4 separate regions of the Homo sapiens genome follow, and regions 2, 3 and 4 are each linked to region 1. Evidence: fine-mapped expression QTL. A gene starts in region 1. Each other region holds a variant in brackets. All regions are shown on one strand. Distances are between the middles of the regions. Region 1 holds the start of CCDC170 (coiled-coil domain containing 170). Region 2 overlaps CCDC170 (coiled-coil domain containing 170). Region 3 overlaps SYNE1 (spectrin repeat containing nuclear envelope protein 1). Region 4 holds the start of RMND1 (required for meiotic nuclear division 1 homolog).

Region 1 (8,108 bases):
TTAGCACTATCACAATGGGTATTAGGTTCCAACAAATGAATTTGGGGTGGCGAGCACCAACATTTAGATCACAGCAAGTGTTTAGGAAAATACTAAAATTAAGCCTACTCTTTTAAACAACCTTTAGACAATTAAAATGTCATAGGAGTGATTTCAGTGACAAGTTTTCAATCGGAAGTCAAAAGCTCCAAAAGTTATCATATTACAAATGTTCCCGTGAGAAACATGTACATCTGTAAAACAAACAAGCAAACAAGCAAAAGGAGGAAACCAGAGTTCTAAACTTACGACACCACAAGAAAACTCCAAAACAGAGGTCTGTACGGAGGTATTGTGGGCCACACGGTGCTGCCCACACACGGGGTTTTGTGAGAGGTCTGGACTGGAACTTGTTTGTACATTTTTTCTTCCCTCCTTTGCTTAAACTGTTATCAGACCTAGAGACCGCCCCCCTCCAACTCCCAGCCTGAAATGTTCTACCACCATGGTCCCAGCTAGCCCAAATCGTCATCTCCTCCAAGGTCCAGACCTCGGGGTCCCCCCAGCTCAACTTCTTTGACGTCATCACATCATCAGATGCTGCTTGAAGAGTCACTTGGCTCATGTCTTGATATCCCAGAAATCTCAAAGGCATCTGGGGAGGGCTGAGCCAAGTACTTTTTCTGCCTCCAGTTACCACAAAATCACATTGTTTTATACAGAGAAAAATCTGTTTCATGCTGATTTTTAAAGACTGCAAATTTATATCTTCTATTCTCATGAATAAGAGCTACAAGGTTGACCAAACTGAGCAGAATTAGGCTTTATGACATGGGATTCTTAAACAATTGGATTAGAGTTAATGGAGAAGGATTTCCATCTGGTTCTCTTCCAGGTGTCTTGAGTTTTCATCAATTTTGTGTTTCCTCTGGCAGTGTTGGTTCATTGAAAATTTAACAAGTTTGGCCGGGCGCAGTGGCTCACGCCTGTAATCCCAGCACTTTGAGAGGTGGAGGCAGGTAGATCACCTGAGGTCAGGACTTCGAGACCAGCTTGGCCAACATGGTGAAACCCTGTCTCTACTAAAAATACAAAATTAGCAGGGTGTGGTGGCACATGCCTGTAATCCCAGCTAGTCGGGAGGCTGAGGCAGGAGAATCGCTTGAATCCAGGGGGCGGAGTTTGCAGTGAGCAGAGATCGCTCCATTGAACTCCAGCCTAGGTAACGAGCGAAACTCTGTTTGAAAAAAAAAAAGAAAAGAAAATTTGACAAGTTTGTAGTGGTTCTACTGCAAGGAAAAACTACAACTTAAAAATGTGTTTACTCCAAATTGTACTATTAATAGGAGATTTCTGAAAGCCTAAGTTTTCATTAAGAACTTTTTCTTTAACGGTGCATCAAGTGAAAGCCTTGAGATGATTCTGGATTAGATATATGGCAAAGTTACCGTGAGCTCAAAAGCCATTGTCCAGATGAAGAAATCCTCAGGGTCAATATGAATGCACATAGGATGACTGATGGAATCCAAGAAAAGCTGCCATAGCTCTGATTTTGCCTTTTTGTGTTGTCTTTAGAGACATGCTCTTGCTCTGTCGCCCAGGCTGGAGTGCAGTGGTGATCATAGCTCACTGCAGCCTTGACCTCCTGGGCTCAAAGCTATCCTCCTGCTTTAGCTTTCTTTTTTTTTTTTTTTTTTAAGATGGCGTCTTGCTCTGTCACCCAGGCTGGAGTACAGTGGTGCTATCTCAGCTTATTGCAACCTCCGCCTCCCAGGTTCAAGCGATTCTCCTGCCTCAGCCTCCCAAGTAGCTGGGATTACAGGCATGTGCCACCACACCTAGCTAATTTTTGTATTTTTAGTAGAGACAGGGTTTCACTATGTTGGCCAGGCTGGTCTCGAACTCCTGACCTCAGGTGATCCACCTGCCTCAGCCTCCCAAAGTACTGGGATTATAGGTATGAGCCACCTCACCTGGCCCCGCCTTAGCCTTCTGAGTAGCTAGGACTACAGGTGTGCACCACCATGCCTGGCTAATTTAAAAAAAAAAAAAAAAAACTTGTAGAGATAGAGTCTTGCTGTATTGCCCAGGCTGGTCTCAAACTCCTGGCCTCAAGCAATCCTCCCACCTGTTTGATTTCATGTGTCTCAAACAGCATAGGAGTCTACTAAAGGCTTTTTTCTTTTTTTTTTTTTTTTTTTTTGAGGCAGATTCTTGCTCTGTCACCCAGGCTGGAGTGCAGTGGCTCAATCTTGGCTCACTGCAACCTCTGCCTCCCAGGTTCAAATGATTTTCCCTGCCTCAGCCTCTCAAATAGCTGTATTACAGGTGTCCGCTACCACGCCCGGCTAATTTTTGTATTTTTAGTAGAGACAGGGTTTCACCTTCTTGGCCAGGCTGGTCTCAAACTCCTGACCTCAAGTGATCCACCCATCTCAGCCTCCCAAAAGTGTTGGGATTACAGGAGTGAGCCACCGCGCCTGGCCCACCAAAAGCTTTAAAGTGAGGTGAATGCAGATTCCATTTTCAGATTCTGCTACAAATTGTGGGACCTTAAACAAGTTACTCATCTTCTCTGTGCTTTAGTGTTATGATCTGGAGCCTGATCTTCATTCTACCACTTACCCTGTACATCTTGGAAATTTTATTTTATTTCCCTGTGACTGTTGCCTTGTCTTGCAGATGGATTATTCTAACATCCACTTCATAATCTTGTTTCATTTAAGGAGATTGATCATACGTGGGAAGCACTTAGAACAGTGCATGGACGAGCACGAGTATTTCATAATGAGCAGCTGTGGCTGTTACTAACACTGGTATTACTAGTACCCGTACTTCCAGGCAGGGTTGTTGAGAAGGTGAAATGAAAGAACGCACACCAGGGCAGGCTACATAATTTGTGGACCCCGGTACAGAATGAAAATGCAGGACACCTTGTTCAAAACTTCCTAAAAACGTCAAGACTGGGACAGCTGAGTATTAAACCAAGCGCAGGACCCGGACCTGCACAGGTTGCACGCTCGCAGACACATTTGCACACAGTGTGTGCTAAATAAATGCTCCGTTCACCCTTGTGAAGTTTCCTATGCCTCACTCGCGCCAGCACCGTTCACAGTGCCCACTGGCTGTATTTATCGCTGACATAAGGATGAGGCCTGGAATTGCATTCACTGCAGAGTCCCACCGGGAGGACCGACCGTTATCCCCGCCGACTCCCCCCAGGTCGCCCTGGCAGTTTCGGCCGCTCAGTTGCAGGCCCTCGCCACGGAGGCCACGCTCGGGGGTTCGGGGTCCACCCCGGCCTCCTGCGGCCGGGCCACCCTACTCGCGCGCAGCCGCGCGCCGCCGCGTCCCCGCGGTGTTTACCCGTTGCCCGAGGAGACACCCGCGCCACCCGCCGGCTCCCGGCGCCGCCGCTTCCTCAGGGCCGGTTCCGGGTCCGAGCGCGCCCCCGGGCTCGGGTCGTCATGAGCCTGGACTGCACCAGCCATATCGCGCTGGGTGCCGCTTCGCCAGCGCCCGAGGTACGGTCCCAGCCGCCGGCCGCGCGCGGGGGTGGCCCTGGGGATAGACGACCCAGGAGGGGCCGAGGCGCCCCTGATTTGCACCCTTTTCCTCCCGGAGGCGTGGGCAGAATCAGAGCAGCTCTGTGCCCGCGAGGGCTGTGGCCTGGGACTGCCAGGGCGCTGATTTCAGGAGGGGATGGGCAGGACCGGAGTTTGCGGAGCGCGTCTGAATTTTAGGTTGTGCCACTCTGCTTCTCTGACCATTTAAACCGGTGACATTCGAAAGACTGTGGCCGGGCAGTTCCTCCCCGCCACCCCTGGGAGCAAAGAATTCCTTCATTTAACTTTCCCTGCTTAGCTACTGAAGTGTGCTTCGGAGCAATTTCTGGAAAATCTGATGTGGCAGGAGGAGGGCCAGCCCGGAGTAGAGTCACCGGCCCTTTCGTTGCGAAGTAATCCAGAAACGTTGGTAATTCAGTTGTTCCTGAATGCATCTACTCATTTACTCCCAGGAGTTACTTAGGTACTGGGGACTTTCAGGTATTAGATGTACCAATGCGCGCGCGCACACACACACGAACATGCGCGCATACACAGACGCTCGTGCACACACGCGAACAGGCACATACGCGAACAAACACGGGCGCGCACACACACGAACACGGGCATATGCATACTTGGGCGCACAAGAAGATCTGGCTGGCTCAGTCTGGGTTAAGAATCCCCCTTTGGCCTTGGCATCGGGGCCCACCGGGTATCGTGTGTATTGGGAGTAGTTGCCAGAGATGGGGGAATTGTGTTCAGCTCAACTGCTAACCGCAAGTAACTCACCCAATTAGTAAATGATGGAGGATTTTTCTTTCTTTCCAAAGTTTTGGACTTTTCCTACCACGCTGTGTACTGACCATAGATATCCCTGGGGGATGTAGTGGATTCAAAACATGAGTTGGATTCTCCAACGTGCCATCGGAATTCTTCTAATATTCAGCAGCTTTGATTGTTGTTTTACATCTGACCTGTATTTAGATTTCTCTGATTCCTGGAATATTTGTGGAAAATAAGTACCACTGTGTGCAAATAAAACTATTTTTTCTTTCTTTCTAACTCAGAGGCCAGTTACTAGATGTTTTTTCTTTCATCTGACATTTTCATATTTGACTTTATTAATTTTTATCCCAATGTGGTGTCTTAACCATACATAAGTATGTGGTATTTTTATATTATTAATATATATTTTTTTTGGTGAGCCCATTGAGAGTAAATTACAGCCATCATGATTCTTTCTTTCTCTCTCCTTTTTTTCTCTTGTTCTCTCCCTCCCTCCTTTTCTTTCTTTCTTCTTTTTTTCAGACAGGGTCTCACCTTGTTACCCAGGCTCGAGTGCAGTGGCACGATCTCGGCTCGCCGCCGCCTTGACACCCCTGGGTTCAAACGATCCTCTCACCTCAGCCTCCAGAGTAGCTGGGACTCCAGGCATGCCATGATGCCTGGATAATTTTTGTGTTCTTTGCAGAGGCAGAGTTTTATCGTGTTGCTCAGGCTGGTCTCAAACTCCTGAGCTCAAGCGATCCACCTGCCTCAGACTCCCAAAGTGCTGGGATTACAGAGATGCACTACCATGCCTGGTCCCCTATGACCTTTCATCTGTAAATACTCTGGTGTGTTATCTCCTATGAATAAGGGCATTCTCTAACGAACATACAATGATCAAAATCGGGATGTTTAGCATTGTGACAATAATATTATCTAATATACACGACCTACTAAAACTTTGCCACTTGTCCCAATTATGCCATTTATTGCCAATTTTTTTTCCATCTCAGGATCACACACTGTATTTAGTTATGTCTCCAGTCTCTTCAAACCTGGAACAGTTCTTCACATTTTTTTTGTTTGTTTTTTTGTTTGTTTGTTTTTGTCTTTGATGATACTGACATTTTTGCAGAGTCCAGGTCATTCGTTTTATAGAGTAAGTTTCTCTGATTGTCCTTCGTGATTAGATTTTTGGGTAGGAATAACATAAGAGATGTTATGTCTCAGAGTATCACATCAGGAGGGGCATATATCAGCTTATCCCATTATTGGTGATGTCCCCAGCTGGTGGCCTCTGCCAGATTTTTCCCCTTTAGCAATAAATAAGAAATCATATTAGTTGAGTAATAATATTGATTCGGATAGAAATTTTTAGCATAAGTCACTGCCTACAAAAGGAAAATGTCCATTAAGCATGAGATTTTAATTGGCTTAAAATAACTAAATTTTATTGAGAACAAAAGTAGCTGCAGAAAAGGCAGCATTTATTACAATTAAATGTTCAGTTTGCAAAATACTTTATCTGAGATCATCTTATAATTTAGATAGGCGGGGCAGAAATTTCTCACTATATAAGATGAGGAAATAGCTTACTGGATTAGAAATGATGGAGCAGGGACTTGTATCTTTCTTTCAAAAGCTTTGTACTTTTCCTACCATGCCAGACTGAAAACATTAAATTACAAAGCAGTGATAGTCTGCAACTTTCTGGAAAAGTAAAATACTGTAGAGACTGAGATACTAGTTTTAGACTCAAAACTAGATTCAAACAATCCTGATTATACCACTCATCTGTGACATCTTGGTCAAAACAATTAATGTATCAGCATTTTAGTTTTTTCTTCTAAAACATGGAATCATAAAACTTATCGCATAACGTAGTTTGAGGATTTCACGGTTAATAAATGTAAGGCACTCAAGAGAGTGTCTGACAGAATAAGTGCATATCAATATTAGCTATCGTTATTCTTTGTAACTTTTGGAATTTGCTTTGGTGTCAACACCACTGCACCTACTCCTACCATCATCACCAATGCTTCCATCAGTACTTCAGCCACCATCTCAATAGTCAGTGTTTTGAGAATCTGTAGGAGGGACAGAGGATACAAAAATGAATTGGAGATTGACCCTGCTCATAATGAAGAATTGACAGTTTACAATCCACTTTGGGAGGCAGAGGTGTGTGGATCGCTTGAGCCCAAGAGTTTAAGACCAGACTGGGCAACATGGCAAAACCCCGTCTCTACAAAAAACACAAAAAGTACCCAGGCATGGCCTGTAGTCCTAGCTACTTGGGAGGCTGAGGTGGGAGGATCACTTGAGCCCAGGAAGTTGAGGCTGTTGTGAGCCTTGATCGCACTACTGCACCCCAGCCTGGGCAACAGAACAAGACCCTGGCTCAAAAATAAAATAAAAATTAAAAAAGAGTTTACAATCAAGAAAAACAGACACATAAAAAGATTACTCCTTCATCAACACTAAAATTTAATGCTGCACTCTTCTCAAGTTGGATTTACCTATAATGCGATCACCAGCACAGCCTTACTGGGATGGAAAATGTGACAAATACTAACAGCAATATTATGAGAATTGAAGTGGAGCAGCCCAAACATGAAGGAAAGAGATATGCTTTGGGGGAAGTTTACAAACATAGCTTTCAGTAAGACTGCATAACTTTGTCATGCATTTGAAATAACGCTACCCAGTGAAAATGTGCTGGGTGCGGTGGCTCATGCTTGTAATCCCAGCACTTTGGGAGGCTGAGGCGGGAGGCTCACTTGAGGTCAGGAGTTCGAGACCATCCTGGCTAACATGGTAAAACCCCGTCTGTACTAAAAATACAAAAAGTAGCCAGGCTTGGTGGCAGGTGCCTGTAATCCCAGTTACTGGGGAGGCTGAGGCAGGAGAATTGCCTGAACCTGGGAGGCAGAGGTTGCAGTGAGCCAAGATTGTGCCACTGAACACACCATCTCAAAAAAAAAAAAAAAAAAAAAAAGAAAAGTGACCTAATTATAAAATAGGATCACCAGTCAGCAAAAAGCTGTAGCAATAGTTCTGTGGAAAGTGCTTGGATTCCAAATCCTCTGACACCAGTGAGAAGCCACAGACATATGGTGGCTTGTAGGCTCTCTTGCTGTGGCAGTGTTTTCACATACCTGGAAAACCTAGATCAAAGTTACAGCTCCAGTAGATACCATTGTTGGGAATTTGAGCATCTCTTTCCTTTCTGTAAAACAAGGGTTAATTAGAATAACTATCAACAGAATTGTTATGAGAAGCAAATGTAAATAGCAACACACTCTATCAGCAGCTATAGTTCCTCAAAACAAAGGACTTAGAGCTGGTCATAGCTAACTATAAAGGAGTTAAAGTCTGTTTTCCTTTTTCTTCCCATCATTTCTACTTTTAAAAACCTCATATAAAATACATATAACATAAAATTTGCCATCTTAACTTACAAATGTACAGTTTAGTGGCATTAAGTACATTCACATTGTTGTGCAACTGTTGCCACAAGCCATCTTCAAACCTTTGTTCATCTTGCAAAACTGAAACTCTGTACTCATTAAGCAATAACTTCACATTTCCTCCTCCCCACAGCTCCTAACAACCACCATTCTACTTTCTTTCTTTATGAATTTGACTATTCTAGGCATGCTGTATAAGTGGAATCAGACTGTATTTAACTATTCTAGGCATGCTGTATAAGTGGAATCAGACTGTATTTGACTATTCTAGGCACGGTGTATAAGTGGAATCAGACTGTATTTCAGTATTCTAGGCACGCTGTATAAGTACAATCAGACTGTA
Region 2 (8,108 bases), 85 kb after region 1:
GTATTTTTAGTAGAGACGGGGTTTCACCATGTTGGCCAGGATGGTCTCGATCTCTTGACCTTGTGATCCACCCGCCTCGGCCTCCCAAAGTGCTGGGATTATAGGCGTGAGCCACCGTGCCCGGCTGCCAAGTGCATTTTCTATCTCTTTGTGGAGATAAAATGTGGAGTGCTCATTGGCTGTCCTCCACTCTAATGTGTAGAGGTCTCTGCGAGTAACTTAGTTTTTCTTGTGACTCAGTTTACATGGAGGTACTTGAGAAAGAAAATGATTTATAGGTTTGGAAATAAGCTTCATTAAGTCATTTCCTTAAATGGTAACAGATATGCAGACGATTTCCAGCTCATGAAAATTTAATTTAAAAAATTTTCAACTTGACGATGGTGTGAAAGTGATACACATTCAGTGGAAACCACACTTTGAGTGTGCATGCAGCCATCCTGTTCTTCACTTTCAGTATTCAACAAATTACATGAGACTTTCAATACTTTATTATAAAATAGGCTTTGTGTTAGATGATTTTGCCCAAATATAGGCCAATGTAAGTGTTCTGAGCACTTTTAAGGTAGGGTAGGCGAAGCCATGATATTCGGTAGGTTAGGTATATTAAATGCATTTCTGACTTAAGGAACTTTCAACTAACACGTCTTTGTTGGGACACAACCTCACCATTCGTCGAGGAGCATCTGTACTTCAATAGCTAATTTTTTTTTTTTTTGCCATTTCATTTTATTGCTTTCCACTTCTATATTTTCAAGTAGTTTCTTAAAACTACTTTAATCCCAAACAAGGCGCATAATTATCAGCATGATGTATATGTTTATTTTCTAAAGCCAAATGATGTAAATTGGTTAAGCTGGGTATGCTTTCTCCCACTCCCCATAAAAATTAGAATGATTCAGAGTCTTTTTAGTGCCTTTGTCTGCCATTCCTACCCTGTAATTTTTTTCAATAGCTGCCCTCCCTATTTAAAAGCCTGAAATCAAGCATATAGCTGGTGTCTTGTGTGACTCATCTTCACGTAAAATCAGGAGAAAATGGATTTCATATATTGTCTTAGAAATGTTTCTAAAGAATGGGAGCTTTACAAATTGATGAATCTGTTTGTTGAGGAGGCTGCATGTCCCTGCCAGCTGCCATGGCTACGCACACAGTCAGTGGCTGAGTAATTCTGATGTGAAGGCTCCACGGCGGGTTCAGGCTCAGCTTGGCAGATTCTCCGCTTCAGGCCGGCTCCTGCTTCCCGAACGTTGCTTGTCTTGTTTACCCCTGTGCTATCCATTTTTCCCCTCCTGTGTTTGCAATTCTCAGTAGAATTCAGGACACCACCCACACTTTTACAGCACGTCATTTCTACTTGTTCCTTGCATATCTGCTTCTGGCAAGATCTAATCTTCTTTTTAGAAGCTTTACTATATCTTAGAGCAAGGTTTTCCATCCTCAGAACTATTGACATTTTGGACTGGATAATTTTTTGCTCTGGGGGCCAGTCCTGTGCATTGCAGGATTTTGAGCGGCGTCCTTGGCCTCTACCCGCTAGTAGCACTCCCCTTCCCAGTTTGTGACAACCACAGATGTCTTTAGAGACTGCCTAATGTCCGCCGGGGGTCAAAATTGCCCCCAGTTGAAAACCACTGTCTTAGAGGAATGTTCTACTGCCAGGTTCCCACGAATTCTAAATGAGTATTTAGATGTTACTTAGCCTTGGAATTTCAGGACACCATAGCAGTTGTTTATGAAATAATGACTTCTTGCACAATGACAGAAAGTTACGACATTTTCAGATTTTACTTTAGAATTTTGAGGCAATTTTGTTTTCTTCTTCACCTCTATCTGGACATTTTTCCTGTTCTGCTTTAGGTACACCTAAGGCTTTATTTCCTTCCTTGAGGTGTTTGCTGGTCCAGGGGCTCTGTGGGAGCTGTGGGGACCCCCCCCGATGCTATAAAGCAAGGGTCTCCAACCCTCTGGCTGCGCACCCGCACCAGTGCCTGGCCTAGTAGGAAATGGGCTGCACAGGAGGAGGTGAGCGGTGGGCGAGCGAGCATTGCTTCCTGAGTTCACCTCCTGTCAGATCAGCAGCGGCATTAGATTCTCATAGGAACGTGAACGCTATTGCGAACTGTGCATGCGAGGGATCTAGGTTGCGTGCATCTTATGAGAATCTAATCCCTGATGATCTGAGGTGAAACAGTTTCATTCTGACACAAAAATTGTCATCCACGAAACCAGTCTCTGGTGACAAAAAGGCTGGTGATCTCTGCTGTGAAGGACTGGAGATGTGCTTCACAGCCCCCTCCTCCCCATTCTGATCTCAGAGCCCGATTATCATTCTCCTGCTCTGTTCTTAACCCTGCCACCTACTAAAGTGAGCATCTTCCCAGAAGCACCAGCACACTTCCATTTGGGACGTTTCATTATCCAAAATTATGTTGTGCGGTTGCTCCGGGCTACAGAGGCATCTGAGAGAGCGAACAGATGGAAGTTTCAGCTTTTCCAGCCTCTCCAGTTATATGAGTTTCCTGGGGCTGCTACGACAAAGTACCGCAACTGGGCGGCTTAAATAACAGAAAGTTCTTGCCTCACAGTTCTGGAGATGAGAAGTCTGGCATCAAGGTGTCAGTAGGGTTGGTTCCTTCTGAGGGCTGTGAGGGAGAGTCTGTCCCATGCCTCACTCCTAGCTTCTGCTGGCCTCAGGCATTGCATTCTTTGTTGTAGGGATAGTGTTCTTCCTGTGTGTTCACATTGCCTTCCTCTATGCATGTCGGTCTTCGTGTCCAAATTTCCCCTCTTATAAGGACCTCAGTCATCTGGGATTAGGGTCCACCTTAGGGACCTCGTTTTCACTTCATCACCACTCTAAAGACCCGATCTCCAAAGAAAGGCACATTCTGAGGTACTGGGGGGCTTCAACATATCTTTTTTGAGGGGGACCTAATTTAACTCAAAACAAAAGTTGAGATGAACAGAGGAGGTGGGATAGAGTTAGCCAGTCAACAGTGCTGGTCACACAAGCCGACAGAAGGGAAGGAGGATTTGGTCGACACTTTCTAGTACCTGATAACTTACATATTCCCCAAGTGCAAATTATAGCTTGAGTAATTGGAAAAGAGTTTATGTCTAAAAGGAACTGGACTTTAAGTGACCCAAATGGCTCTTTCTTCAGTGTAGAACTTTTTGGCTTCTATTTGGTTTAATTTTAGGACAAAA[T/A]TGTCTCTCTGGTGAAATCAATGCATAGTTGTCCCTGGGGAGTGAATTAAATCTTTTAGGGCATTATGACTTTACTTCTAAAAACCATGCAGCTTATTCTTTAACTATATTGTGCTTTTTGTTTCAAAAAAAAAGCACAAACAAAAAAATATCTTTTTTGTTTAAAGGTATGTATTCTTCACCCCTCACCCTCCACTGCCCACCTCTAGTGTTGAAATATCTGGTGCATTTTGTCCCATAGAATATCAGGTATATGTTAAGAAATGATCCTAAGAAAAAGAAAAGAAAAGAAAGAAAGGCTTATTTATTGTTTAGACTTTTTGGTGTGAAAAACAGCACAAGTTTACGGTTTTGGTGGAGCACATATGTTCACTCAGGCACTGGCATTTGATGTTCCCAAGAATAAGTCAGAATGGAAAGTTAATTTATTTGAATTAATTTATCTAAATTTAGTTAGAAAAAAACTTAGTGGTGTCATGTGCACTGACACCTAAATAAGCTTCTGAAGCTACGTTCTGTGATCTGATAGAGTGCAGGAGGGCTCTCAGCTGTTTTCTTCTCTCTGGACACAAGAATCTTGGCATGGCAGGTATCCCCTGCAAATTTCAGCGATCTACGTATTAGTGGTTTTAAAGTCTCACTTCGCTGAGTCTCAAGGCTCTGTAGAGCACCCTCAGGTCCAGATGGGGTGAAGATGCAAGAGAGACCTTCTTGCCTTTGATTCAAACACATTTGTCCCTTATTTGTTCTTCCTAGAAAGACTTCTAGTTGAGAGAAAGACTATGCTGAAAATAGTTTGAGAAACATGACATAGGACAATTCCTGGAGGGTTCTTTAGCTCCTCATGGCGACAGCATAGGATTGACAGAACCAGTACACTGGAGCAGTAACCCTGATGACGGAAATGGACACGATGTGTTGAACTTCAATATGGTGTGAAATACTGTAAATTATCTAAATCAGCTCATTGAGTCTTCATAGCAAAGTCTACGAATTTCAGAGAGATTAGTTACTTGCTTCAGTTAACCTGCTAGTAAGTGGTACAGGGGAAATTGAAACCAGGGCTATCTGACTCCAAAGCCTCCGTCCTGCACTCTGGTCTACGTCAGATGCTTACATCTTCCTTTAGGGTCAGTATCACTCCCTTAGTCTAACTTACTGCAGTTACTCTGGGCATCAGCTTCAGAATGGAGACCATACTGATTGATGTCTACAGAAGGCTTGCTTTTTTCCAGTAAATTCGGTGGTGTGCTGACTATGGCTAACTGATCACACAGTTCTCCCTCTCTCCGCTTGAGGTTTATTGAATCAATTTTCTCTTTGGTTTCATTCTCTCCGCTATGTCATTTGTGGTATAGGAGACGTTGAAGGGTCTTCAGGTAGAAATACTCACTTCCTGTTTGCAGTCCAACGTGAAACCACATCTCCTGATGTGCTATACTCCTAATAATGCAAATCAGTCCCTTGGGAGGCAGCATCTTGTGGACATTTTTCTGTAGATTACATTATTTGTTATACCAAGATAAACACTGTTTCTCTTGCGTTAAGATCAGATTTATCTGCTATATTAGTAAGTTATACTTACTAATATAGCTATGAATGTATCAGTAGATTTTTTATTATTGGTAAGCAGGAAAGGTAGGAAATAAGAAATGAGGTTTCTCAGAGCTTCATGTTCTGGGATGACACTAAAAATTTCCTTGGTAAATGTAATTCCTTGGATGTGGCTCTGAATAGCTTACCATCAAATATCTAATTTCAAGCACACACACAGAAGTGTTAAATTAATTGAATGTCTGGAAGCTTGAGAGCCATGGAAGCACAGGATTGAAGAGTTTAGAGCTCAGGTGGTCTAACCTTCCTCATGTAGCACTTCAATCTGCATTGCAACATTCTTAATTGGTATAAGCATACCTCAGAGACCACTGCGACAAAGCAAGTGTCACAATAAAGTGAGTCACACAATTTTTTTTGGTTTCTCAGTGCATATAAAAGTTATGTTTATACTAGACTATGTAGTCTATTAAGTGTGCAATAACCCTATATCTAAAAAACAATATAGATACTTTAATTAAAAATACTTTATTGCTAAGAAGTGCTAACAATCATCTTAGCCTTCAGCAAGTCATAATCTTTTTGCTGGTGGAGGGTTTTGCTGTAATGTTGATGGTTACTGCTGATCGGAGTGATGGTTCCTGAAGGTTGGGTGGCTGTGGCAATTTCTTAAAATAAGACAACAACGTAGTTGAAAACAACAATTGACTCTTTTTTTTCTCAAAAGATTTCTCTGTAGCATGTGAGCTATTTGATAGCGCTTTACCAACAGCAGAACTTCTTTCTAAATTGAGGTCAATCCTCTCAAACCTTGCTGCTTTTTTGTCAGCTAAATTTATGTTATATTCTAAATGTTTATTGTCATTTCAACAATGTTCAAGCATCTTCACTAGGAGTAAATTTCATCTCAATAATTTTCTTTGCTCATCCATGAGAAGCAACTCTTCATCCATTCAAGTTTGATCATGAGGTTACAGCAATTCAGTCACATCTTTAGGCTCCATTTCTAATTCTAGTTCTCTTGCTATTTCCACCACATCTGCAGTTACTTCCTCCACTGAAGTCCTGAACCCCTCAGAATCATCTCATAGATGACACCTATGATGTTATTTTGACCTCCTCTTATGATTTATGAATGTCCTTAATGGTATCAAGAGTAGTGAATCCTTTCCAGAAGGTTTTCAATTTACTTTGCCCAGATCCATCAGAGGAATCACTCTCTATGGCAGCTGTAGCCTTATGAAGTATATTTCTTACATAATAAGACTTTAAAGTCAGAATTATTCCTTGATCCATGGGCTGCAGAATGAATGCTGTGTTAATAGCTGTGAAGACAACATTCATCTCTTTGTACATCTCCATCAGAGTTCGTGGGTGACCAGGTATGTTGTCAATGAGCAGTAATATTTTGAAAGGAATCTTTTACTGAGCCATAGGTCTCAACTGTAGGCTTGAAATATTCAGTAAAACTTGATGTGAACAGATGTGCTGTCATCCAGCTTTGCTGTTCCATTTCTAGAGCACAGTCAGAATAGATTTAGCATATTTCTTAAGGGGCCTAGGGTCTTCAGAATGGTAAATGAGCACTGGCCTCAACTTCAAGTCACCAGCTGCATTAACCTCTAACAAGAGAGTCAGCCTGTTCTCTGAAGCTTTGAAGGCAGGCATTGACTTCTCCTCTTTAGCTATGAAAGTCCTAAATGGCAACCTCTTCCCATAGAAGGCTGATTTGCCTACATTGAAAGTCTGTTGTTTGGTGTCGCCACCTTCATCAATGATCTTAGCTAGATCTTGTGGATAACTTACCCCAGCTTCTACATCAGCACTTACTGCTTTATCTTGTACTTTTATGTTATGGAGATGGCTTCTTTCCTTAAATCTCATGAATCAATCTCTACTAGTTTCAAACTTTTCTTCTGCAGCTTCTTCACCTCTCTTAGGCTTCATAGATTTAAGGAGAGTTAGGGCCTTGCTTTGGATTAGGCTTTGGCTTAAGGGAATGTTATGGCTGGTTTGATGTCTATTCAGACCACTCAAACTTTCTCCATATCAGCAATAAGGCTGTTTTTTTTCTTATCATTTGTGTGTGTCTTAGTCCTTTTGTGTTGCCATAAAAGAATACCTGAGGCTGAGTAATTGATAAAGAAAAGAGGTTTATTTGGCTCATGGTTCTGCAGGCTATACAAGAAGCACAGTGCCATCTACTTCTGGCAATGAACCTCAAGAAACTTTCACTCATGGCAGAAGATGAAGGGGAGCAGGCATCACATGGCCAGAGAGAAAGAAAGGGAGAGAGAGGAGGAGGTGCCAGGCTCTTTTCAACAACCAGAGCTCATGGGAACTAAGAGTGAGCAGTCACTCAATTCTGCAAGAATGACACCAAGTCATTCATGAAGGATCTGCTTCCATGAACCAAACATCTCCCACTAGGCCCACCTCCAACTGTGAGGATCAAATTTTAACATGCGATTTAGAGAGGACAAATATCCACACTGTATCAGTGTGTTTACTGGAGTAGCACTTTTTTTTTTTTTTTTTTTTTTTTGAGACGGAGTCTTGCTCTGTCACCCAGGCTGGAGTGCAATGGCGCAATCTCAGCTCACTGCAACCTCTGCCTCCCGGGTTAAAGTGATTCTCCTGTCTCAGCCTCCTGAGTAGCTGGGACTACAGGCGCCTGCCACCACGCCTGGCTAATTTTTGTATTTTTAGTAGAGATGGGGTTTCACCATACTGGTCAGCCTAGTCTTGAACTCCTGACCTCAGGTGATCCACCCACCTTGGCCTCCCAAAGTGCTGGGATTACAGGCGTGAGCCACCGTGCCTGGCCTGGAGTAGCACTTTTAATTTCCTTCAAGAACGCTTCCTTTCTATTCCCAGCTTGGCTAATTGGAGTAAGAGGCCCAATTTTTGGCCGATCTCAGATTTCAACATGCCTTTCTTACTAAGCTTAGTCATTTCCATCTTTTGAGTTAAAATGAGAGAAGTGCGACTCTTCGCTTTTTTTTATTTGAGATGGAAGTCTCATTCTGTCACCTAGGCTGGAGTGCAGTGGCGTGATGTTGGCTCACTACAACCTCTGCCTCCCAGGTTCAGGTGATTCTCCTGCCTCAGCCTTCCAAGTAGCTGGGACTACAGGCATGAGCCATCACGTCCAGCTAATTTTTGTATTTTCAGTAGAGATGGGGTTTCGCCATGTTGGCCAGGCTGGTCTTGAACTCCTGACTTCAGGTGATCCACCCAGTTTGGCCTCCCAAAGTGCTGGGATTACAGGCGTGAGCCACTATGCCCAGCCTGACTCTTCCTTTCATTTGAAAACTTAGAGGCCATTGTAAGGTTATTAACTG
Region 3 (8,108 bases), 750 kb after region 1:
GCCATGTCACTTTCAAGTGAATATCTACTTGCCTTATTTATTTATTTATTTTTGAGACACAGTCTCACTCTATTGCCCAGGCTGGAGTACAGTAGCATGATCATGGCTCACTGCAGCCTCAACCTCCCAGGCTGAAGCAATCCTCCCACTTCAGCCTCTCCAATAGCAGGGACCACAGGCATGTGCCACCATACCTAGTCCTTTTGTAATTTTTTTGTAGAGATTGGGGTCTTACTATGTTGCCCAGGCTGGTCTTGAACTCCTGGCCTCAAGCAGTCCTCCCGTATTGGCCACCCAAGTAATGAGATTATAGGTTTGAGCCATCATCCCCCACCCGCACTAGCCTTATTAATACAATGCAGCACTTATCTAAAAATATACAAAACAGTCATTGTATTACCTGGTCCAGTGTTTCAATATTGTTTCCAGTCTGTGAAGTTCCTTAGACATTTTATTGGTGTTACTTAGCCAGCACTCTCCAAGTTGATTTAGTTGGCTTTCTAGATCTGAGCAGCTGATGGATATCAGAAGTCGTTTCCCATCATCTAATACTTGATATAATTTGGGCTGGTATTCATTAAGGCTAGATTTTAAATGCTAAAATATTGAAATTATTGAGTTAAAAGTTTGGATATGCAATTTTTGTCTTTAAGAATTATAATTTCTCTGGTACCTACAATGTTCCCATTACCTGTTATTCAAACTTAAACTATACTCACTCAAGTAACATTGAAAACTTTAAGATGTTTCATCTATATTTAAGTATAGACAGTCTCCTTTTGTTGTTTATTATTTTTTTTTTGGTAATGACTTTAGGTGGATTTAAAACTGTCAAATTATTATTTCAAGAATTGTGTGGCATCAGCATAAACTACAGAAAATGCTTGGTGGAGGCTGAATTTTCAAAAAGAGCTCTCAGTAAAAAAAAGAAAAAAGAAAGACTTTTAATAATGTCCAACTATAAATAACAGAAACATTATCTCCTTTCAATGTCAATAACTTGAAAGAAAAGTAAAAGTACTAATAAAATAATTGATCACAAGTTTGTTTACATTCTGTTAAAACTATTGGTAAGTTTCTAAAGGCAATGTGGCGGCTTGTAACACCAACCTGGTAGAGTGTTATGCGGTCAATAAGCCTGTCCTCGTTCTCCTCCACCAGACCCACGCTTGGGATGCTGCTTTCCACCACCTCCAGCTGTCTGCTGAGCTCCTGCTGGTCCTCATCCAGATGGGACCACGTCTAGAAACACAACATGAGTCTGTGAGCTAAAAAAACCCTCATTAGCGAAAGACATTCTTCCTTGGGTGCAAAATACGTGCCTGACAGTCTCTCCTTAAAGTTATATCAGAGATGTTTGCGTTGGGCCTTGCTTTGGGAAGCAAAAGATGGCTTTAAAGCAAGTAATCAAATGGTGACCCTTGAAAGCATTGTGAATGGGCTCTGGAATCTGCCACTAAGCCCCTTTACAACTGTGAGTAAGCTACTAAACTCTGTACCTCTTTTCCATACGTTACAATGGGGATAATAATAGCTATCTTCTCCATCATGAGGATTAAATGGAATAATGTATGCAGTGTACCTTCTATTGGGTATGCACTTTTTTTTTTTTTTTTTTTTTTAGATAGGCTCTCACTCTGTTGCCCAGGCTGGAGTACAGTGGCACAATCATGGATCACTGTAGACTCGAACTCCTGGGCTCAAGGGATCCTCCTGCTTCATCCTCCCAAGTAGCTGGGACCACAGGCGCATTCCACCACACCAGGCTAACTTAAAAAAAATTTTTTTGTAGAGATGGGGGTCTCACTATGTTGTCCAGCCTGGTCTCAAACTCCTGGTATCAAAAGATCCTCCTGCTTCAGCCTCCCAAAGTGCTGGGATTACAGGCATGAGCCACCACATCTAGCCCAGGTATGTATGGTTTTATTCTTTACCACAGTAAGGATTTAAGTCAAAAGGATGGGGATGTTTGCCTTTCATGTAACGAGTAAACAAATCAATTACATTTGCATATGAAACATATCTATAAATATGAATATATAGTTTATATATTCTGTTAAAGAAAAATACCACATCACTTATTCCTAAGTTCAGACTTTTATTTTATTTAAAACTGGAAAACACTTTTTAAAAGATCAGTTGAAGTCTTTTCCAGTAATTTACGCTGTGGGTCAGCAGTTTCTCAGTGTGAGTATGCTCACTTCACTGTGCAGTTGGAGTGGCAACAGGGCACAGTAGTAGAAACCCATGCTTTTTAAATACACTTACCAAATATCTATTGCCTGGTATTTTCAATGCCTAGGGATCTGGGAGTAAATAAAACAGACACAAACCCAGGCCTTCTAGTGAGGAGAGACAGGCAATCAATAATAAACAATAAACCAAAAACAAACAATAAGTTGTATGGTATAATAGAGTTCTTGTGCTGTGGAAGAATAAAACAGAACTGGGTAGGGGTGGGAGGGAGTGCCCAGGTGTGTGCCTGGTGGGGCTACAATTTAAATGGTGTCATCAGGTAAGTTTCATGGAGAAACACACATTTCAGGTCGTGAAGTCAGACAGATGAAGGTGTGATCTCTGACTTTGCCACCAATTAACCACGTGTCTTGGCAAACAGTTGCTCCCAGACTCATTGCTGAAACAGGGATTCAAAATTCTATCTCAAAGGGTTATGATAAAGATGAGATGGATTCATGTAAATGTAAGAAGTCTTGCCAGGGACCTGACATGTCAATAAAGTGTAACTATTATTACAGAGATTTCAAACGTTAAAGGTAGATGTCTCTCCAAAATATAGGGAATTCCACATCAGGGAATTCCACATCTGGGATTTGGGGGTTAGCTACCTATGAAAATGTTGGCCCAGGGAAAATCCCATTTAGAAAAAATGCAAATACGACCTGCAGGCAACCCAGTTAAGATCAGTAATATTGTGGGAGTGGGTGGGGAAGTCCACAAAGGGGAGAGAGATTATAATCTCTAAAACTTCCAAGGGAAAGAGGAAGAATGAGAAAGCAGGAACAGTTTAGGGCAACTGGTACAGTTACTGAAGAAAGAAAGGGGACTGTTCCATCAATAATGTCCTACATTTCCACGGGGTTCTATAGCTTGCCAGTAGCCACCACTGAGCACTACTCTGTTCCAAGAGCAACCGCATTTGGGACAGAAAAAAATATTTCTACATTTTACTTTCATTTTTTTTTTTTTTTGAGACAGAGTTTTACTCCCGTTGCCCAGGCTGGAGTGCAATGGTGTGACCTTGGCTCACTGCAACCACTGCCTCCCGGTTCAAGTGATTCTCCTGCCTCAGCCTCCCAAGTAGCTGAGATTACAGGCACCCACGACGACGTCCGGCTAATTTTTTGTATTTTTAGTAGAGACGGGGTTTCAACATGTTGGTTTGTTTCATCATGTTGGCCAGGCTGGTCTCGAACTCCTGACCTCAAGTGATCCACCCGCCTCAGCCTCCCAAAGTGCTGGGATGACAGGTGTGAGCCACTGCACCTGGCCTATTTCTACATTTTTCATACTCTTAAGTAAGCTATCAGTCTGAATATCAAAACCCCAAATATCTTCATGCATAGTCTGAAGTCAGTGTGTATCTATCTTACTTTCGACATGGCACAGCAGATAGCCCAATGTACACAGAAAACACAGGGGGAATAAGCAACACAGAACCATAGGAAAAGTGCAGTCCTGAGCCCGAGAG[C/T]GCAGCTAGTTCTGAGGTTATGTGAGGCAAACTGCATGGATAGATACATCTTGCATTAAAGGTCTATTTTGCAGCAGGAAGTTTGCAGCACAGAAGATATGACATCAATGGTCTCACCTCTAGAATGTACTCCAGCTCCACACCCCTCTTGTGAGCCCGTTTCAGTACAGCAGAAGCCTGAGCCATCAGCTCTGTATGGAACTGGGTTTCCTTTTGGACTGCAAAGCTGATTATCTTTCTGAAGAGTGTTTCAGTCAAGATCATATGAGATTCCAGGCCCTGAAAGTATTCCTGCAATTTTTCAGGAAGAAAGAAGTCAGCAACTCATTCATATATTATGTTAGAATCAAAATTGGTTTAGGGCCGGGTGCGGTGGCTCACGCCTGTAATCCCAACAGTTGGGGAGGCTGAAGTGGGTGGATTACCTGAGGTCAAGAGCTCAAGACCAGCCTGGCCAATGTGGTGGAATCCGTTTCTACTAAAAATACAAAAATCAGCCGGGCATGCTGGTGTGTGCCTGTAATCCTAGCTACTCAGGAGGCTGAGGCACAAGAATCGCTTGAACCTGGGAGGCCGAGGTTGCAGTGAGCCAAGATCGTGCCACTGCACTCCAGCCTGGGTGGAGAGGAGTTCACACCAACCCAGCGCTGGAGCTGAGTAGACAGCTCTGCATTTCTAGAGGAGAGTGAGGAGTGCGCGAGGAGTCCTTGACCAGGACAAGGGAGGGCAGAGGGAGCAACTAGGACCAGGTGTACAAAGGGGCAAAAAGGAAACACAGGGAAAGGTAGAGGTAAGAACGAAGGTGGGCTCCTTTGAAGACAGGCTCTGAGTTTTTCTTTGCCAGGACAGTTGGAGCTCTGGTTGGAGACTCCATCTCAAAACAAACAAACAAACAAACAAACAAAAAACATTGCTTTCCTTCCTCCATGGCTGGGCTTGGGCTCTACTTTCTGAACTTCTAGGATATTTGCGTGCTCATTCCATGTTGTCAAGCACAGCTTTATATGCACTGATTGATATTATAAATTTGCTTTCCTTGTATTATACCTACACATAACATAACTGTAGGCCTTGCGCCATCCTACTAATGTTTTTGAAATGTTACCGTTTGTGTATAATAGACCCTGGAGAATGGAGATTGAGCTTATCTCATTTCCTGTTCCCAGTACCATGATAAAATGGAAGAGCTGGCAACTGATAATGACAGTTAACATTAATTATGTGCTTACTGTTTGCTAGGCACTCCATAAATACTTTATCTGACTCATCTCATCCTCCTAACAACTCTATAACTCTATGAGATAGGCAGTTTTGTTTCCAGTTTTACAGATGAGAACACTGAGTCCCCCCAGTCTATGTAGCTTGCCCAAGGTCACATAGCTAGTCACGGCAGAGCTTGGGGTTCAAACCCAAGGGCAGTGTGGCTTTATCTGTGCTTCTCACCAGCACTGCAGAACTCTCCCTCAGAAAATGGGCTGGTGAGTAGAAGCTAGAATCATTATTTTTAACCAACAATTACCAAATCAGAGTCCTAAAGTTGGAGGAGACTTTGAAGTTCATCTAGCCCAACATGCAATGAAAGCTGAGATTCCTTTTACAAGCCCATCTCCCCTAAAAGCCTTGGCTGGACTTCTCATGGCCAGAAGGGCTGTCTGCTCAATGGCAGCTTACTCCTTTTATAGTTCTTTTTCTATTGAGGTTTATTTCCCTGTTATTTATACTCATTGATCCTAGTTTCCCCTCTGGAATAACTCAGAATGATCTTTTATTGCTATGGTCAACAACGTGAGAAACACCAGCTGTGGACTTTAAAGCAATGTTTTCAAAGCCAAATGATAAGGTTTTAATAAATCATGAAGCTTTGGACAAAAACGTCTGGGAAAAAATAGGAACGACAATTTGAAAAAGACAAAAAAAACCCACCTTTACAAGCCACCAGAGAGCTACACAATGGTAGAAGATTTTAAACTTCTATAACCCAATGGGATTTTTTTAGTTTCCCTACAGGAAATTCCCATAGTCTAGAAGGCTGGGTTTCTGGACTGGCAAAATTGCTTTCGTAATCATTGCCAATAATGCAAGAGCTGTGTGTGTGTGTGTGTGTGTGTGTGTGTGAAATACGCATTCTTCTACCATGGAGTAGTGTCCAACCTGAGCTTGGCTGTGGCACACAATGATGGAGTGATTTCGGGCCTCCCAAGTTTGATTACATAGTAAACGGCCTTGCTGTTCCCAGGGAGAAAGTCTGAAGTCTACAGCAACTAGAGGAGCATATGTGTAAGGGTCAGAGGATCTAAACAATGCATGTAAAAGACACCAACCCAACCCTGGATCTGAGTAGTCAGCTCTGCATTTCTAGAGGAGAGCAAGGAGTGAGCGAGGAGTCCTTGACGAGGACAAGGGAGGGCAAAGAGGGTAACTGGGACCAGGTGGACAAATGGGCAAAAAGGAAACACAGGGAAAAGTGGAGTTAAGAATGAAGATGGGCTCCTTTGAAGAGAGGCTCTGAGTTTTCCTTTGATTTTAGCTCATCTAGGGAGAAAGCCTGGCTAATACTAGTGAGGAACTGATAGGTAAAATTACAGGTAAGTTGGTTTTCTTTTTTAATTTACAACATTATAGAAACATATCCCCTATAATTTCTCTGTGCTACTGAAAGCCAGTGGGTTTGAATATAAATTTTTTGGCCATTTTTAAAGAATAACTTATACAAGTAAGAACTCATAAAAGACTGAGAATATTAGGTTTTACTAAATATATATCAGGGTTTGAGAGCATGCTTTCCAATTACATTTTCTCTCTATCACTCTTTTTTGTTATGTACCTTATGTTTGTCAAGTAGTTGCTGGATTTCCTCTTTGGAAGACACGATGATTTTCTGGTCTCCTGCCATCTTCTCCTGACCAGTTTCTAGCAGGTCAGCCAGATCTTGTAGGGCCCTCTCATACTGACTCTTGAGTGTAAGGTTCTGATTCAGACCACTCCTCCGGGAGCCAATGATCATCATCAGCTCATCATACATGTCCTAAGAAGCAGAGACCACAAGACTCACTCTCAATTCATATTCTGGCAACCCTCTAAAAGCATATGAACTATGAACGCACCAAGCCCGAGACCCAACCAAGAAAATGCCTTCAGGGATGTGCCTCCTGGAAACGCTCTACCTGTAGGCCATCTGCTTGTCTTTCTATGAGCCTTACTTTGAAAACATGTTTCACAAAGAAATGACCTTTGGACCTCTATTCTCATGCCTATGATATTCGTTGTGACTTTACTGTGTCTTGATACCTGGTGGTTCAAGTTCTTTCATTAATCTTATTTGGTATTCTTATCTTGCTGTTTTAAATTTTATTTTATTTCTAACGGACAATAAAGCACAACGGAGAAACTGAAAAAAAACTGAATTCATAAAAATGTAAGTATGAAGTCACTGAAAGGATAAAATAAATATTCAATAAATAATGTGGAAACAACTCAACTCTTTGAAGAAAAATAAAGTCTTATCTCATGCCACATATCAAAATGCAATTTAGATTGATTACAAAATAAAAATTTAATAAGTTAAAATATGAAAGGAAATAAAGATATGTCTATAAAAAATAAGGTTAATATTTTAAGATTTTAAAGGACATGTAAAAGTGTTTCCTAGAAATGATACATGAGGTAGATTTGACAACTGTTTTCTCAGGATATCAATAGTTTATGATAAGATGTGGGGTAAAACTGTTGAAAAACTGTCCATGTGGCTGAGGGACATGTCATAGAAAATGTAATTCCCATTTTTATAGTATTCTCAACATTCATATAATTTCAGAGCAATTGAATATAATATCCTTAACATTTTCCTGCTAAATAACAATCATATTTGGGACTACCCCTCAAACAAAGAGCTAGAGAAATAGGGGAGTTTAATGTGAGCAGAAAGAGTTTCAAACTTAAGAAGGCAATATTTTTGCCAAATGTGGTGGAGTATATAACTATTTAAACTGGAAAGACATTTTAGGAGATGATGACACACCAAACACAAAATTTATTTGAGGCATACGGACCTGATTAACATATCACATTAAGGTTTAGCAGGCCAAAATGGTTCAATCTGGAAGAGTTCAATTTTAATGCCTATTTACGGCAATGACATTTGACTCTTACACCTGATGCTTAAGTGCTGTCGGAAAACTGTCTAAAAAAGTACAAAGTGGGGGAGGTGGGCTTATGATATTATGAAATGTTAGATAAAGGACAGATACAGTTAAAATAAAAATGTTCTTTTGTTTATAAGGTCTATTTTATTTTCTCAAAGAAAGAACTCACAACCCTGTACTGGACTGAGGTTACCAGTTCTCAATAGTTCTGCACACAGAGAAAATCTAACATGTGTGTCTGTGTGACTGTACACAGT
Region 4 (8,108 bases), 39 kb before region 1:
CACAACCAGCATCCATTCTCTTATCTTCCTCCACTTTGCATTTCTCCATTGTTTAACATCACTTGCACACCTTTAATTTTTAGTTTATTAATTCATACTGCAAACGAACTCAGTTCTTATCATGTGCCAGGTATTGTCCTAGTTGCTGACAATACAGCTGAAAATAAAATAGACAAAAATCCTATCTTTTGAATCTTTTGAACCTTGCATTGGGAGTGACAGACAAAACGAGGTAAATCAGTAAAATACGTGAGACACAAAGCTAAAGGAAAAAAATAAGAGGAAAGGGCAGATTTTTGTGTCTTCCTTCCAGAATGGAAGCTCCCTGAGGATACGGATTTGTGTTTTTTCCTATTATATCTCCTGACAATAGCGCCCAGCACATAGTAGGCATTCGATCGAATTTTTAAAATGAAATACAAGGCAGTTACTCAGTTCCCGGGCACATTTCAACTTTTAGAGAACAATTACACCAATTAAGAAAATCGATTACAGCTAGGCTACGATTCGAGAGCTAAGTGGCGCTCATCTTTGGGAGTATGCCGTTCAATTCCTCAAACTCAAAATTATTTTATCGATTTCTACAGTTACCGCGGTGCACTGGCTCAAAAAAAGGGTTCATTAATTGAGTGCTTTTTACTCCCAGCTAAGCTGACCAAAGATCACGGTAAGAGGCAAAGGGTCACAGCCGCACTGGCGTAACCCGTAACTGTACACGTTCCGGGCGGCCAGGAGCCAGGGCGCAGACCTCCAAGCCGGACCACTCGAGCTGCTAAAGAAAAGGCAATACACTAACCTCTCCGCCGGAAGAGAAGAAGGAAGCGCCAGGGACGCACGCTTCCTCGGCAGGACTGCAGGGAAAGAGCCGCACCCCCAGCCTCTCACTACTGCAGCCAACCCATCTCCTGGAAGGGCGCTCCCGCCCACCCCCGCTACTGCGCAGCCGCACTGAACTCTGGTCCCACTTAGCGGGAGAAACTCGGGCCACGTGACTGTCTGACCACGTGAGCCGCGTCGCCGCGACCTCTTCCGCTCCCTAGGCCCTGGGACCTCCCGGTCCCTTGCCTGCTTCCGGCTTTCGCTCGCTTCCATATCCGCTCCTCTAGTCGCCCTCCGCTGGCCCCGCCTTCGTCCCCGGAAGATTGGGTCTTCTGGCGAGCCACTGTTTGCCGTTTGATCGGGCACCAAATAAAGTTTCTTTATTCAAAAGCACTTTTTTTTTAAAGCCACACCACCCCCATTCTCAGCTCCTCCTTCGCGGCGGTACCGCCTCTGTTTCTGCGGCGATTGAACAGCCGAGCTTTGCGGCCGGGATCGCGGAAAGTGATGGCTGTCGTCCCGGCGTCTCTCTCAGGACAGGACGTGGGGTTAGTCTAGCTTTTCTCCTCCCCACTTTTGCGGAAAGCCGGGCCTCGCCGGGAGCCTGTGGGGACTAAGCGGAGGGCGCCCGCTCCCCGGTGGGCTGCGTTCGAGTCCCGCCGCCGGGCGCGGCTTTCCGGGGCGCCTTTGCGGGTTTCGCGGACTGGCTCGGAGGCGAAGGGAGGCGGCCCCGGGGAGGGAGCCTGCCCGCGGCGGCTGCTCGTAAGGATCAGGACAGGGGTCAGCTTCGCGGTCTGTTCCTGGCGGTCACTTTTTATTTATTCACTTTAATAGACGCGCTTTGGGGGCGTTAAAATTCTGCGTAAGAGTTGGGGATCTCAGCGCTATTAAGAAACGGGTTTCTCCCTGTTGTTGATCAAATCGTAATCTCACAGTAAGAACTGTCTAGTTTTTTGCTTTATAGTCGTCACGCTACTGATTCTTGGGTAAAGTTGTGGGTGACCGTGCAAATAACATCCATTTGCATAAATCGAATGGCCAAATTTATATTTGAAATTTGTCCTTACTTCAAAATATTGCAAAAGACGAGAACACTTTGAAGAAAATAAACCTGGGCAGAAAGTAGGTTGAGGCCAACAAAGTGGCGCCAATGGCCCCAAATTGAGGCAGTCACTGTTTCAGGTCATGCAAGTATAGAGAGTATCTCCTTCAATTTTGCGCCCTAGGGCTTCTGGCCTCACTCCAGTCCTGGCCAGAGACTTTGTTCCAGAGGTGCAGGAAATGTAGTAGTTAGGAAAACAGTAATACTTTCCAATTAAAGTAAAATCTCAAAAAAGGACTTACTATACCTACTGCCTGGGAAAATTCAAGTGACAGTTGATTTAATGTTCCTGCTCACCCTCTGAGGTATTAGTGATTTCTTTTATTAATGATTTTTAAAAATTAAATTCTGATCAACGTAGTTATTATGCGCATTAAAACCTAATCACTGTTTTGGGTGGTACTGAAAGCACCACAGAGTCGGAAAGTGTGTGCAGTTTTTTTCTTAAAGTTCTATAGCTATCATTTGAGGAAACCTTTTGAAGAAATACCCAAGTTACAATCTAGTAATTTAACAATTGTCTCCTGTGATCTGGAGATAAAAACACTAGTCAGCTAAGCTCTGTGCTCTATATTTAAAACTGCACAGAATTTCTCCACCAAATAAAGCTTTTTTTCTACCTGTATCATGTATTTCCTTAGAATGATATAAAATGATAATCTGTAAATCTTGGGTTTTGTATGAATAAAATCAAGAATATCTTTAATTTTTTAATGCAGGTATAAGTTTTTCTTCATCTCCAGCTTGCTTCATTCTTGAACACTTCTATAAAATCTCTGATTTTTTGAGTGGGAAGAGACAGTAGCACGCCTTCATTTGCTTAGGGGCAGAATAGGATGGAAGGAGTCCATTGTGCAGATAGAGAAGGCAGAGAAGGGGAAAATTTTTGAAAATAATTAAAATTGACTTAGAAAATAGACAGAATGGAGAGAAACAGGCTTAAAAGTACCTTTAATTCTTTATGTTGTTCAAGCACATTAGACCCTTTAGGTGGTTTTAGATGCATTGCTTCATTCATCTTTCTAAGCAGGTGACTTAGCAGATAGTAGACCTGGGACAAGAGCCTGTTTGATTTCTAAGCTAATCCATTCCCTATCCTATCACTTTGCTAAGCGAGTTTCTGATTTAGGAAAATAAAAGCAATAGAATAGGAAAGATAAGAATGATTAAACAGACTCCATGGGAGAATCTGGGATTAGAGGCACCAAGACAGTTTGGCTTCCATGACATACCAGCGAATTTTCCAGGTTTTCTTATGTCTTAATATAGTAATCATACAATACTTGTCTATCTTTTAATAGTTGTATGAGGAGTTTAATATACATGAAGTGTTCCAGAAACTAAAAGATAGCCAGTCTTCTAGTATTGATGCTGCTAAGTTATATATTGCATGTGACTCTTTTCTAGATCATTTGCATATCTTACAATTAAAGACAGAATACCACAGATCTTAACTAAGGTTATTGATACATTGCATCGACATAAAAGTGAATTTTTTGAGAAACACGGAGAGGTAAGAATTGTTTTAACTTTTAATTTTTTGTTAATTTCTCAACAGAAACATAATAAATAGTTCTTGAAGGTATCAATTTTCCTTTAAATGTAAAAATCAATAGATGGGCCAAGTATTTATTTGTTTTTAAG[G/A]TAATACATTGAAATGAAGATAGAACAGCCAATCTTCAATTTAGAAAATGATTGTGTTCCAATAATTAATTCTGTCAGTTATTTAGACTTCAGAATGTATTTTCTAATATATGCAATGTTGTAATTGGTGACTGGGCAACAGACTTGCAATTGACTTAGTCAAGTGACTAAGCAATTGAGTTGCTTAGAAGAGCTTTTTAAATTTCAAGTTTAATTTGAGTTGCAGTATTTATATTACTAATTTGAGATCTTGAGTCCTGGAAGTTCAAGCTGCTATGCAAAGCTCAGTGATATGAATTATAATTGATTGACACATTGTACTGATTCAAGTTGGGACTCATTAGCATTCAGTGCAGAATAGGACTTTAGAAATCACTTTGTCCATTCAATTAATGGATGAGGAAAAATCCAAATAACTATGTTATTGAAGGGGTGGGTTGCCCCTCCACACCTGTGGGTGTTTCTCGTAAGGTGGAACGAGAGACTTGGAAAAGAAAAAGACACAGAGACAAAGTATAGAGAAAGAAATAAGGGGACCTGGGGAACCAGCGTTCAGCATATGGAGGATCCCGCCAGCCTCTGAGTTCCCTTAGTATTTATTGATCATTCGTGGGTGTTTCTCCGAGAGAGGGATGTGTCAGGGTCACAAGACAATTGTGGGGAGAGGGTCAGCAGACAAACACGTGAACAAAGGTCTTTGCATCATAGACAATGTAAAGGATTAAGTGCTGTGCTTTTAGATATGCATACACATAAACATCTCAATGCTTTACAAAGCAGTATTGCTGCCCGCATGTCCCACCTCCAGCCCTAAGGCGGTTTTTCCCTATCTCAGTAGATGGAACATACAATTGGGTTTTATACCGAGACATTCCATTGCCCAGGGACGGGCAGGAGACAGATGCCTTCCTCTTGTCTCAACTGCAAGAGGCATGCCTTCCTCTTACACTAATCCTCCTCAGCACAGACCCTTTACGGGTGTCGGGCTGGGGGACGGTCAGGTCTTTCCCTTCCCACGAGGCCATATTTCAGACTATCACATGGGGAGAAACCTTGGACAATACCTGGCTTTCCTAGGCAGAGGTCCCTGCGGCCTTCCGGCCTTCCGCAGTTTTTGTGCCCCTGGGTACTTGAGATTAGGGAGTGGTGATGACTCTCAAGGAGTATGCTGCCTTCAAGCATCTGTTTAACAAAGCACATCTTGCACCGCCCTTAATCCATTTAACTCCGAGTTGACACAGCACATGTTTCAGAGAGCACGGGGTTGGGGGTAAGGTTATAGATTAACAGAATCTCAAGGCAGAAGAATTTTTCTTAGTACAGAACAAAATGGAGTCTCCTATGTCTACTTCTTTCTACACAGACACAGTAACAATCTGATCTCTCTTGCTTTTCCCCACATGTTATGTTAGACATAGGTCTTTAAACTTGTAGGTTCAGTAATCTTTCTATTACACAATAGACTGTAAAAGAGCATACATATACCAGTACATTTTTTTTGAGAGTTGAAAACAAAAATTTAGAGAAATGGTTGGTGATCTTTTCTCCTTGGCCAAATTGAAATGGAGCAAGATAACACACATGCAGTTTGAGTGTAATGTTCTACTTCTTTCAACTTCTTTTATATTGTCTTGTTTAAAACTAATCCTGGCATAACACAGGGATTACCTGTTGTTCCTTGTTGCTAAAATCCGGCTTAATTTAGACACTGACAATTATATTGCTGAATGGTTTTAATGTTTATCACATAAACATAATTTTGGTAACTGACATATCTTTATCACACAAGTATAATTTAGCCAAATTTGGATAGTTCACTTTAGTATTTGGTCATATACGCAAGCAAATTACCATAATACTTTTGTTTTTCTTGTTGTTGTTTTTTGAGACAGGGTCTTGTTCTGTCTACTAGGCAGAGTGCAGTGGTGCAGTCATAGCTCACTGCAGCCTCAAACTCCTAGATTCCAGCAATTCTCCCAGTTCAGCATCCTAAAGTGCTGGCATTACAGGCGTGAGCCACTGTGCCTGGCCCCATAATGCTTTTGTAATTTCAGTTTTTTCGGCCAGAGTGATCTAAAATGTAGTAATTAATGAAGTCCTAGTATATTGCTACTTGGCCTGTATGCCCGTAATCACCAGGTGACTGAAGGCAGAGTTTATTGTCTCTCCAGCCCTCCCCCATTTCACACTCTACTGAGCACAGAACAAGATGTAAATTGACACAGATAAAGTCTGCTTTTGGTAGCCTTTCTGTCCCTTTTTCATGCCTCTGTTATACCTATGGCCACTCTCCTTGGGCCTCATGTGTTCTAGCTTCCTAAGCCCCCACCTATAGCAGGGCCAGGCTTATCTCCGAAGGAGCCATGCCACACAGTTTTCTATCTTCCCCCACCTCAGCGGTCAAACGTCCGTGCCCTTAGACTACCTGGTTTGGCAGATGTGTGTCTCTTGGAGACAGGACCAGGCTTTATTCATCTTTCTCTGGCCCTGAGGTTAGTGTCAGGCACATACAGGGTTCAGTAAATGTTTGAATTCAATTCAAGTAAGTGAACAAAGTGGCAGTGACATCACTATTAATCCATTAGCCTTTTTAGGTATATGCTTCTGTAAAAGGGTGCCTGACACCCTGTAAAACCTCAGTTGTTGGAATTTATAGTTAAAGAGTTGAAGTTTAAGACTTTAGGGAAGAGATTTGGAGGAGGGGGAGTTCCTCTCAAAACAGTCAGCTACAACTTCTTTTCTTCTATTTCTGAACCTGCAGAATCTCGAAAGCTTCAATCTTTTTTTCTAGCAGCAAAATAAATTGTACTTGGAACAAAAGAAAGATTGGAGAGATGTTTATATTGAGAAAATTACAGATCTGAAAGTAGGGACTAAATATCAACATGATAAAAATGATCTTATAAAAATACTCAGGCTTGATGTTTATTCTCTACATTTTATTATATACGTGTCTTATTAGGCTTACATTTTCTTTTTTTTTAATGGAGCAGGAATCTTGCTAATGTAAAACCAAGGTGTGAAGTCATTTTCACTTCATTCTGATCCCATTACATTTGTCCCCACTCCAATTGGCCTGTTATGTGAGATAATATTGTAGTGCCTTGTTTGTCAGCATATGTCATCTCTCACCTAGCTAGAACTTGGTGGAAAACAAGTTAAAAAAAATTTGAGCTACCAAAAGAAACCTCAGAAAGCCCACAGTTTCTTTTCTAGTGGTGTCAATGGTGAAAGAAGAATATGTATGGAAGCATGAAAGACATGGAAAATCTGGCAGGGGTTCCTTTCCCTCTGTGGTAATGGTCATCCCACCGAAGATACAGAAAGGCCAGAACTTAGGTAGATAAGGCATGATTATGTTCATATGAGATCTGTGTGTGTTTTTTGATTTTCAGTTTAAGAGTTCTAAATGTAATGTTTAAAGAAATAAAATGTAGTTTTGAACATTTTTCTTTTCTTCTTAAGTCTGTAAAAATATGTTACCCTAGAGGAATTGCACAGACACACACACACACACAATTTATTTTTCTTGTATTTTTGCAGGAAGGCGTGGAAGCTGAAAAGAAAGCTATCTCTCTCCTTTCTAAATTACGGAATGAATTGCAAACAGATAAACCATTTATCCCCTTGGTTGAGAAATTTGTTGATACTGATATATGGAATCAGTACCTAGAATATCAACAGAGTCTTTTAAATGAAAGTGATGGAAAATCAAGATGGTTCTACTCACCGTGGTTGTTGGTAGAATGTTACATGTATCGAAGAATTCATGAAGCAATTATCCAGAGGTACGTGTGTAATCATCAACTATCAAATGTTTAGATAATTTATACTTTTTCTGAAATTGTAAAAGGATAAGTTTAAAAATAAGCACCAGTGGAAGCTTGAATTTGGTTGAGTTTAGCAAATCTTAATAGCATTGTTGGACATTTCTACAAATGTTACTGATGGACATTTCTACAAATGTTACTGATGGACATTTCTATAGCTGTTACCAATTTAACAGATTCTTGGCAATTATAATCTACTTGCCTAGAATAGACATAAGAGTAAATATCTAAAGTACGAATTGGCCAGGCCCTGAGGTTCATGCTTGTAATCCCAGCACTTTGGGAGGCTGAGGTGGGCAGATTGCTTGAGGTCAGGAGTTCGAGACCAGCCTGGCCAGCATAACGAAACCCGTCTCTACTAAAAATAAAAAAATTAGCGAGGCATGGTGGCACGGGCCTGTAATCCCAGGTACCTGGGAGGCTGAGGAATGGGAATTGCTTGAACCTGGGAGGCAGAGGTTGCAGTGTGCCAAAATTGCACCACTGCACTGCAGCCTGAGCACCGGAGTGAAACTCTGTCTCAATAAAATAGATAAATAAAGCGTGAATTAATTAAAGATTCCAACAAAGACTTCTAGAATAAAAGAAGTTTTGCTTATTGAGTAAAAAATGTAAATTTGAAATAGTTACATTTATATAAATAAGGATGGGACAAAGTAAGCATATGTTTTGTTTATTGAAATAGATAATAAACGTTACAACTTACTTGGTTT

What was found. PIP is the estimated chance that this variant, and not a neighbour inherited with it, causes the effect.
Region 2: its variant is fine-mapped to the expression of CCDC170 in whole blood (INTERVAL, PIP above 0.99).
Region 3: its variant is fine-mapped to the expression of CCDC170 in testis (GTEx, PIP above 0.99).
Region 4: its variant is fine-mapped to the expression of CCDC170 in whole blood (INTERVAL, PIP 0.96).

The regions. Positions count from the first base shown.
Region 1 is chr6:151,490,683-151,498,790 of GRCh38, forward strand. It overlaps CCDC170 (coiled-coil domain containing 170), which reads left to right and starts at 3,335. Exons shown (of 11, transcript NM_025059.4): 1 at 3,335-3,503. The coding sequence starts at 3,447. It overlaps LOC124901436 (a long non-coding RNA gene), which reads right to left and starts at 7,524. Exons shown (of 2, transcript XR_007059817.1): 1 at 7,454-7,524; 2 at 5,725-6,382.
Region 2 is chr6:151,575,702-151,583,809 of GRCh38, forward strand. The region is part of intron 6 of CCDC170 (coiled-coil domain containing 170); the gene reads left to right. Among named protein-coding and RNA genes, the nearest start is that of CCDC170, 86 kb to the left of the region's middle. The variant T/A (reference allele first, on the strand shown) is at 3,211.
Region 3 is chr6:152,235,707-152,243,814 of GRCh38, forward strand. It overlaps SYNE1 (spectrin repeat containing nuclear envelope protein 1), which reads right to left. Exons shown (of 146, transcript NM_182961.4): 107 at 6,534-6,734; 108 at 3,827-4,000; 109 at 1,111-1,242; 110 at 401-597. Among named protein-coding and RNA genes, the nearest start is that of SYNE1-AS1, 140 kb to the right of the region's middle. The variant C/T (reference allele first, on the strand shown) is at 3,710.
Region 4 is chr6:151,451,220-151,459,327 of GRCh38, forward strand. RMND1 (required for meiotic nuclear division 1 homolog) reads right to left here and starts at 907. Exons shown (of 12, transcript NM_017909.4): 1 at 797-907. It overlaps DCPH1 (damage control phosphatase 1), which reads left to right and starts at 1,247. Exons shown (of 5, transcript NM_024573.3): 1 at 1,247-1,367; 2 at 3,329-3,434; 3 at 7,109-7,353. The coding sequence starts at 1,327. RefSeq lists enhancers at 635-684, 875-1,324, 4,183-4,940 and silencers at 1,485-1,604, 4,575-4,869. The variant G/A (reference allele first, on the strand shown) is at 3,566.